3 linked regions of the Homo sapiens genome follow. The protein of the gene in region 1 purifies or fractionates together with the protein of each later gene. This does not show direct contact. Each region holds a gene or a part of one and is shown in the gene's direction. Other genes may lie near its edges.

What was found.
Region 2: the proteins of P2RY14 (region 1) and ATP12A purify together in Homo sapiens (affinity purification with mass spectrometry; 3 studies listed by BioGRID and IntAct, with this or other methods). This does not show direct contact.
Region 3: the proteins of P2RY14 (region 1) and RAP2A purify together in Homo sapiens (affinity purification with mass spectrometry, with the first as the bait; one large-scale study listed by BioGRID). This does not show direct contact.

Annotation. Positions count from the first base shown.
Region 1 is NC_000003.12:151,212,457-151,216,116, reverse strand, and holds part of P2RY14 (P2Y purinoceptor 14), read left to right. Parts: intron 1-1,776; 5' UTR 1,777-1,800; coding exon 1,801-2,817; 3' UTR 2,818-3,660. UniProt on the Homo sapiens protein: Receptor for UDP-glucose and other UDP-sugar coupled to G-proteins. Not activated by ATP, ADP, UTP or ATP.
Region 2 is NC_000013.11:24,700,790-24,704,449, forward strand, and holds part of ATP12A (potassium-transporting ATPase alpha chain 2), read left to right. Parts: coding exon 1-133; intron 134-1,145; coding exon 1,146-1,282; intron 1,283-3,660. UniProt on the Homo sapiens protein: The catalytic subunit of a H(+)/K(+) ATPase and/or Na(+)/K(+) ATPase pump which transports K(+) ions in exchange for Na(+) and/or H(+) ions across the apical membrane of epithelial cells.
Region 3 is NC_000013.11:97,467,338-97,469,727, forward strand, and holds the end of RAP2A (ras-related protein Rap-2a), read left to right. Parts: 3' UTR 1-1,791; downstream 1,792-2,390. UniProt on the Homo sapiens protein: Small GTP-binding protein which cycles between a GDP-bound inactive and a GTP-bound active form. In its active form interacts with and regulates several effectors including MAP4K4, MINK1 and TNIK.

The DNA of each region.
Region 1 (3,660 bases):
GAGCTTGTAGTAGTGGAAGAGACAAACAGCTGGAGAGAGGAGTGTTGATAGGAGAAAGACACAGGATGATAAGCACACACTCAACCCACCCCAAACCAGGCTAGGAAAGTTGAGGTTTCCTAAGGAAAGTGACAGCTAAGCTGAGGCCTTGAGGATAAAGAGAAGTTAGCCAGCCAAGAAGGTATGGAAACAGTTTTCCACACAAATGAAAGTCTGTGCAAAGGTCCAGGCTGAGAGAAATCACAGAACCTAAAAGGAGGCAGATGGGCCCAGGACAGCAGGAACTCAGTGCTGGGGGTGGAGGAAGCAGGAGGCAGAACAAGAAAGGACTTCAACATTACAGACTTAGGGCATTCTCCTGAGGGCAAGGACAGACTACTAAAGGGTTTTAAGCAGGATAATTGGTACTGTTCACATATAAGATGGGCAGTAAACATCTGTTCCGATATATCAAATAACCTTTTGAATTTAATTCTAGTCTTCCCTCTGCCCTAAATCAACACTTCCGACATCAGTGAAGAATATACAGGATTCCTAAACAATAGAAGTTCTGGATAACACCTAGCACAGCACTGTGCAATAAAACCATAATGTGAAACACATATGTAATTTAAAATTTCCTAGTAGCCAGAGTCTTAAAAAGTAAAATTAAGTTAAATTTAAGAGTAATAATATATTTTATTTAATAGAGCATTTGTAGAATATTACTTCAACATGTGATCAGTATTAAAAATACTGAGATATTTTACATTTTTTCATTCCAAGTCTGCAAAGTCTAGTGTGCATTTTATACTTAACAGAACATCTCAATCTGGACTGGCCATATTTCAAGTGCTCAATACCCACACATGGCTAGTGGCTACCATACTGAATAGTACAGATGTAGAATGTACTTTGGGAAGCATTTCTCAGAATGCTTAAAGTACTTTTTATCATTTGTTTGTATTTGTATTCTAATTTATTAAAATAATGCAAATCAGTTTTTCAATGGGAAAAAAAAAAAGCTCAATATTGAAAAGGTACCCATAATCCCATACCAAAAATACCGGTTAACATTTGAATGTATATGTTTGTTAGACACTGTCTTCATGTCCAACATATATGTAGAATACACTTTTCTAAAAGTAAGGTCCGTCTGAATAGCTCTTAATATGTAAACATTTATAATGATTTTTATGAATCCATAAAAATTTCTCTTTTAGGAAAAAACAATCACATTTCCAACATAGGTTTTAAAAAAATACATTACACATGGGATTCTGAATAAAATAAAACATTAATTCTGCTTTTACAGTTACTACCTTTTAAGATTATACCTAAATGAGTATTTCCTAGAACTCTGGAGTTTTATAGGGAACCATTATTATTTTAGGGGCATGCTGGTCTCCGTATTACCTAGAAGTTCTCAGAGACTGCCCTGCTGCTCCAGTTTCTCTTTACTGCCACCTGTCTGCTCCATTCTTCCCTTTTCATTGCCCAAAAAAAAGGAAGAAGGAAGAGGAGGGAAAAGGGAGGGGGAGAGGGGAGAAGGAAGAAAGGAGTGGGGGTTGGTGGGTAAAGGGGGAAAGAGGGAGGGAAAGGAGAAAAGGAAGACCAAAAGAAAGAAAAGGAAGAACAGAGGGAGGGAGGGATGAGTGTCTAACTTACACAGAGTAAAAAGGTGGCTTCAAAAATTTGGTAGGTTTGACTATATTCATTGCCCTTTGCCTTATTACTCAGCAAATGTCTTGGAGGCCATAAGTGCCCTATGAGTGACCAGTTCACACCTCTTTTCAGGCCTCTGCCTTCAGAAGTTACAAGATGATCAATTCAACCTCCACACAGCCTCCAGATGAATCCTGCTCTCAGAACCTCCTGATCACTCAGCAGATCATTCCTGTGCTGTACTGTATGGTCTTCATTGCAGGAATCCTACTCAATGGAGTGTCAGGATGGATATTCTTTTACGTGCCCAGCTCTAAGAGTTTCATCATCTATCTCAAGAACATTGTTATTGCTGACTTTGTGATGAGCCTGACTTTTCCTTTCAAGATCCTTGGTGACTCAGGCCTTGGTCCCTGGCAGCTGAACGTGTTTGTGTGCAGGGTCTCTGCCGTGCTCTTCTACGTCAACATGTACGTCAGCATTGTGTTCTTTGGGCTCATCAGCTTTGACAGATATTATAAAATTGTAAAGCCTCTTTGGACTTCTTTCATCCAGTCAGTGAGTTACAGCAAACTTCTGTCAGTGATAGTATGGATGCTCATGCTCCTCCTTGCTGTTCCAAATATTATTCTCACCAACCAGAGTGTTAGGGAGGTTACACAAATAAAATGTATAGAACTGAAAAGTGAACTGGGACGGAAGTGGCACAAAGCATCAAACTACATCTTCGTGGCCATCTTCTGGATTGTGTTTCTTTTGTTAATCGTTTTCTATACTGCTATCACAAAGAAAATCTTTAAGTCCCACCTTAAGTCAAGTCGGAATTCCACTTCGGTCAAAAAGAAATCTAGCCGCAACATATTCAGCATCGTGTTTGTGTTTTTTGTCTGTTTTGTACCTTACCATATTGCCAGAATCCCCTACACAAAGAGTCAGACCGAAGCTCATTACAGCTGCCAGTCAAAAGAAATCTTGCGGTATATGAAAGAATTCACTCTGCTACTATCTGCTGCAAATGTATGCTTGGACCCTATTATTTATTTCTTTCTATGCCAGCCGTTTAGGGAAATCTTATGTAAGAAATTGCACATTCCATTAAAAGCTCAGAATGACCTAGACATTTCCAGAATCAAAAGAGGAAATACAACACTTGAAAGCACAGATACTTTGTGAGTTCCTACCCTCTTCCAAAGAAAGACCACGTGTGCATGTTGTCATCTTCAATTACATAACAGAAATCAATAAGATATGTGCCCTCATCATAAATATCATCTCTAGCACTGCCATCCAATTTAGTTCAATAAAATTCAAATATAAGTTTCCATGCTTTTTTGTAACATCAAAGAAAACATACCCATCAGTAATTTCTCTAATACTGACCTTTCTATTCTCTATTAATAAAAAATTAATACATACAATTATTCAATTCTATTATATTAAAATAAGTTAAAGTTTATAACCACTAGTCTGGTCAGTTAATGTAGAAATTTAAATAGTAAATAAAACACAACATAATCAAAGACAACTCACTCAGGCATCTTCTTTCTCTAAATACCAGAATCTAGTATGTAATTGTTTTCAACACTGTCCTTAAAGACTAACTTGAAAGCAGGCACAGTTTGATGAAGGGCTAGAGAGCTGTTTGCAATAAAAAGTCAGGTTTTTTTCCTGATTTGAAGAAGCAGGAAAAGCTGACACCCAGACAATCACTTAAGAAACCCCTTATTGATGTATTTCATGGCACTGCAAAGGAAGAGGAATATTAATTGTATACTTAGCAAGAAAATTTTTTTTTTCTGATAGCACTTTGAGGATATTAGATACATGCTAAATATGTTTTCTACAAAGACTTACGTCATTTAATGAGCCTGGGGTTCTGGTGTTAGAATATTTTTAAGTAGGCTTTACTGAGAGAAACTAAATATTGGCATACGTTATCAGCAACTTCCCCTGTTCAATAGTATGGGAAAAATAAGATGACTGGGAAAAAGACACACCCACACCGTAGAACATATA
Region 2 (3,660 bases), on another chromosome or scaffold:
CTACTCATTTGACATAGACGCTATGAACTTTCCGACCTCCAACCTCTGTTTTGTGGGACTCTTGTCAATGATCGATCCCCCTCGGTCCACCGTGCCAGATGCAGTCACCAAATGCCGGAGTGCAGGGATCAAGGTGGGAGTTATTTTCCTGACTCAAGAAGTTCTTTCTTTATGTCGTGTTCCTTTCTAATAATGGTTTTCATAGCAGATGGTCAGTATTTAGGTGTCTTCAAGTAAATATCATAATTCCTATTTTATTTCTAGTTTCACTGTGCTAAGGTTACTGAAACTGTCCCACAAAAAGAAAATGATTGTGTCTATGTGGAATGAACCACATAAACAGTAAATGCAATGAGAAGAATCTCCTAGTGCCTTGAAGTGACCATATCTCGCCCTAGTCCATGGTAGATACTAAAAGGCTTTATTGGCTGGGCGCAGTGGCTCATGCCTGAAATCCCAGCACTTTGGGAAGCTGAGGCAGGCGGATCATCTGAGGTCAGGAGTTCCAGACCAGCCATGGCCAACATGGTGAAACCCCGTTTCTACTAAAAATACAAAAAAATTAGCCAGATGTGGTGGCACACACCTGTAATCCCAGCTACTCGGGAGGCTGAGGCAGGAGAATCTCTTGAATCCAGGAGGCAGAGGTTGCAGTGAGCCGAGATCACACCATTGCACTCCAGCTTGGGCAACAAGAGTGAAACTCTGTCTCAAAAAAAAAAAAAAAAAAAGAAAGAAAGAAAAGAAAAGAAAAAAAGAAAGAAAAAAGGCTTTATTACTCAGTCTTGAGGCTCAGCCCCCATAATCCATGTTCATCATTACTAGGTTAATATTAAGACTGTTGAAGTAACATGGGGCTACCCCCAAGTAGACACTCACCAGCCCTTTCACAAATAAAGTGGCATCAAAGGGGAAGGGCTTCCTTTCATGTCAGAGGAGGAAGCGTATGAAGCTTAGGAGCAAGGGTAGACCCAATGGGATTAGTGTTTCCTCCAAAGACAGTTGTCTCGTAGATCCAGAGCTGCCACTGTAATCACCAACCACGTTCTCCCAGGGCACTACAGAGTAGGTATTACTGAACCATCCCCACTTTGGCCAACCGAGTTCTTCATTACCCGTGGGCCTTCTCGTTGTCTTTGCTCTAGGTTATTATGGTTACTGGTGATCATCCCATCACAGCCAAAGCTATTGCCAAGAGTGTGGGGATCATTTCAGCCAACAGTGAAACAGTGGAAGACATTGCACATCGCCTCAACATTGCTGTGGAGCAAGTTAACAAACGGTAAGCACAGGAGCAGCATAGTAAAAATTCCAGTTTATACCCATGGGGCCCCACTGGCTCTAAAGAGCTGCACTACTTGGAACAAATCAGCTTTTTGCTCTCAGAGTTATGCTAGGCTTGTTTGAGCTATTATTTGCATATCCATGTATTCACTCTAATTTCACTGAGCAGCTAATATGTGCCAGGCACAGTATTGATACCATGAAATGACCCTTTATGTGTTCCTTGTTTGAAATTTCAAAATCCAGTGTGCCCTGGGCACAAAACCTATGTGCCCAATTTAGAATAAGAAAAACTGAAACAAAGGGTTTATGTGAAATTACTTGCCATAGATGCAGTTGCATAATTTGGAATCGTAAGAACCCTGTGGGTTGTTTCATGCACCCTCCTTGGTAAGCATCTTGGGTATTTATCCACCCGGTTTCATAACGTGTAGCTATGTAAACACACCCTTCTTTTTTATTTGGTAATAGATAGAATGGAAGCTTCCTAAGGAAAGTTTTTTTCCTTGTTTCTCCTAATTCTTTTAATCATGTTTATCCTTATTCTTTTAATCATGTTCATCCAACTGTACATTCACTCATGTATTTGTTCTTTCAACAAGTATTTACTGCGTGCCAACTATATACCAGGCAAGACCTGGAACTACAGTAGCAAACTGAACAATACTATCCACACCGTTGGGGAATCTTTCCATCGAGCCAAGGAGACACAAACAAAGCTAACAATGATGTGGCCAGTGTAATGAGGGAGCCACACAAGGCTAGGGAGCTGGGCATGCAGGAGAGTGGCCTGGACTGTGCCTGGTCTCCATGAGTCAAAGACTCCGAATTCTCAGGTTGAGAAGTAATGTTCATTAGCTGGGTTATGTTTTCACGCATGCGGGAGATGAGGGAAAGACCAATGCACCTCTTCAGTTTCCCCAAGCACTTAGGTCTTTTAGGGACACACAGCTGTCAGGTCATAACAAATTACCACGTTAGACAACCAACCAGGGTTCCCGCCTCTGGGCACAGCAGCAGTACCTGAAGTCTAAGAGTCTTGCAGTGCCCTTTAGTATACATAACATCCCTCTATGAAAACAACTTTGGGGCTTGTTTATTTGTTTGGTTTTGTAAGATAATCGGATTATACTTTTTTTCACTTTAGAATTTTAAACAAATTTTGTTTGTTTGTTTGTTTGTTTATTTAGACAGAGTCTCTCTCTGTCACCCACGCTGTAATGCAGTGGTGTGATCTCAGCTCACTGCAATCTCCACCTCCTGGGTTCAAGCGATTCTCCTGCCTCAGCCTCCTGAATAGCTGGGATTACAGGCGCCCGCCACCATGCCTGGCTAATTTTGTATTTTTAGTAGAGACGGGGCTTTGCCATGTTGGCCAGGCTGGTCTCAAACTCCTGACCTCAAGTGATCCACCCACCTTAGCCTCCCAAAGTGCTGGGCTTACAGGCGTGAGCCACCACACCTGGACTAAAAGAAATTTTTTTAAGAGTAGTCAAGTGCAGTAGTGAGAAGAGGGGAAAGAGTAGAAGTTTGATCTGTAACTGACTGTGAACAATCAGTTGAGCTAATTCACTACTACCTTCAGACCAGCCGAGTCTTCTTTTTTTAGATACAAGGTGTCCTGTCAGATCACCCAGGCTGGAGTGCAATGGTGTGATCATAGCTCACTGCAGCCTCGACCTCCTGGGTTCAAGGGATCCTCCCCTCTCAGCCTCCCAAGTAGCTGGGACTACAGGCTTGTGTCACTGCACCCAGCTTCATTTTAGCAGATTTTTTTTTTTTTGAGATGGAGTCTTTCTCTGTTGCCTAGGCTGGAGTGTGGAGTGCAGTGGTGAAATCTCATTGCAGCCTCCACCTCCTGGGTTCAAGGGATCCTCCCCTCTCAGCCTCCCAAGTAGCTGGGACTTTAATTTAAAATTTTAGCAGATTTTTTTTTTTTTGAGATGGAGTCTTTCTCTGTTGCCTAGGCTGGAGTGTGGAGTGCAGTGGTGAAATCTCATTGCAGCCTCCACCTCCTGGGTTCAAGCAATTCTCCTGCCTCAGCCTCCTGAGTAGCTGGGGTTACAGGCATGTGCCACCACACCCGGCTAGTTTTTGTACTTTTAGTAGAGACGGGGTTTCACGATGTTGGCCAGGCTGGTCTTTAACTCCTGACTGCAAGGGTTCTGCTCGCCTTGGCTTCCCAGAGTGTAGAGATTACAGGCGTAAGCCACTGCGCCTGGCCCATTTTAGCAATTTTTAATGAAAGTTGTATATAAGATACCTTATTCCTGCATCTTCTCAATTGCTTCTTTTTTATATTTGCCCTTCCTTCCCTACTTAGGAAGATTTGTTTGGCCTTCCATTCAAGGATCTTTTGTGGTCTTTGTCTAGTTT
Region 3 (2,390 bases), on another chromosome or scaffold:
TTGATGATTTTCTCCTTTGGTTTGTAGAATTAGGACTGAACTTTTGACTCAAATTGCTACAGTTGCCATCACCTTTCTGTGGTAATACTACTGATATTTGCTTTTCTATATAAAGAAATGTTGCCTAAGGCTGTCTGGTATTTCTTTTCAAGGGTTTTCCAGTATGAATGTTAATGTTGTCAGTGTATGTATGAATATGAAAGTGCTTTGTTTTGTTTGTTGCTGTTTTTTGTTTATGTGTGTGTTTTTAATTTTTTTGTTCTTATCAGCAGTCTTGTGTTAGCACTGGGTAAGCTTTAATTGTCCCTTAGCCAATCAAACATTAAGGACTATGGAGGTCTTTTTTTTTTTATTTAACATGTCATTGTTCATCTATTAAATCTTGATCAGGGTTTCAAGAATGACTGCAGTGGGTTTTGGAAACAGACTTATCATTATTGATTTGAGGTTTCCCAGAGATATAGTTCACAGTTAATTGTTGCGCTCTAATACAACTGACCATTTAAAATTGAACAAGTTTATTGTTTTGTAACAATGTCAGTTGTTAAACCTTGACATTTCAATTAAAACATGAATTGTAGTTATAACTCAATGCAAATTCAACAGTTGTATTTGGAGTTAAATTATTTTAACAAATAAATTTATTTAATGAAACTCTGGATTTGCTTTGTTTTGTACATGCTCATGAGAGAAATGTATTATATACAAAAACAATTAAAAATTGCCATATAATGAATTTAGTACTCTTCATACAAAAATATTTTAGCTGATTTGAGAGTTCATCATATAAAAAGGCAGGTAGGTAGATAATTTTCATAGTCTTTAAAAATAAAAATAACATGTAAGAGACTGTAAAATCAGTTATTATAAATATAAACTTATCTCTACAAATGATTTTATATTTTGAATGGTAGCTGGTTAATTTAAAGCCTGATGCTAAGGTTAACAGAATTGTTCAAATAATTAACATTAATTAGCAATATCACTAAAATGATTCAGAGGCCTTCTAGTGATGGCTTGAAGCCGTCTTTCTGTTTTCAGGTCATGTGGATCCGAAGGTGCCAGAAGCTGAAGGTTGCCGCCAGGCTGTAGGGCCTGCTTGTTCTATATGGGGCCCTATGAAAGTTGACAGATGCTGTTAATTGTATACAGCCTTCAGCTGCTCTGATAAGGAGCCCATTCATTTCCTAAGCCAATTTAAACTATGCCTTTTGGTTATGTTGCCTTCAAACTCTGTTGAAATCCTCTGGCAGCATTCCACCAGTTGAGAAGCTTCATTGTTTTAGATTATAAGAATAATTTGAATGAATATAACAGAGGCACTGTAGATAGAATCCCAGATATTTAAAGGAAAACATGCCTATATTTTAGGAATATCTTCTGAAGAACTTCATAATTTTATTTGAAGTGTTTGTAAATTTTTTAATAAATTATTTAAATGTATCAATAGTGGATAGTTGGAAGAACGTCTTTGAGGCTAAAAAGTAGTACTCTGAAATTCTCTCAAGTTATATTATTTGTCTGTTAGAGGTCCACGAATGAAAATATATGTAGCTAAAGGAGTAAGGTGCTGCCCAATTTGGAACCCAACTGACCTCTAGGATCTATGAAGCAGAGAATATTACCACAAACTTCTGAAAGAAGCTGTTGACCTCGTTTCTTAATTTAAAATATGTTGCCACATAAATACTAATAAAACATAGTTGCTCTTCATCTCTTAAATGGATCATTCCAACTGGTTTTACATCGTTGAATATTATCTAGTATTTTTAATAAATATTTTCATAAATAGTTTTTGTGGTTTTTTTGTTTGTTTTTGAGACAGTCTCGCTCTGTCACCCAGGCTGGAGTGCAGTGGTGTGATCTTTGCTCACTGCAAGCTCCCTCCCGGGTTCACACCACTCTCCTGCCTCAGCCTCCCAAGTAGCTGGGACCACAGGTGCCCATCACCATGCCTGGCTAATTTTTTGTATTTTTTAGTAGAGACGGGGTTTCACCATGTTAGCCAGGATGGTCTCGATCTCCTGACCTTGTGATCCTCCCACCTTGGCCTCCCAAAGTGCTGGGATCACAGGCGTGAGCCACCATGCCTGGCCTATAAATAGTTTTTAGATAATATTCAACATCCCCAACATCGAGGTATTGAGTTTTAAAAGATTTGCTGCTATTCTAGGTAAGACGCTGTGTTATTTCTTTCTATATTTTCTTAGTAGTCTTCATGTTAGCCTCTAAGGATTCCTCCAAGATTTCTCAGCAGAGAAAAAGGTAGAGGACTAGCTGCTTGAAAGAGTAAATACGAAGACCTATTTAGTATGTATGAGTTGGGAATAAAACTGAAGGAAAGATTCTTGGTTTAGCTTATGGGGATTTTTTAGTATAAGATCCTCCCA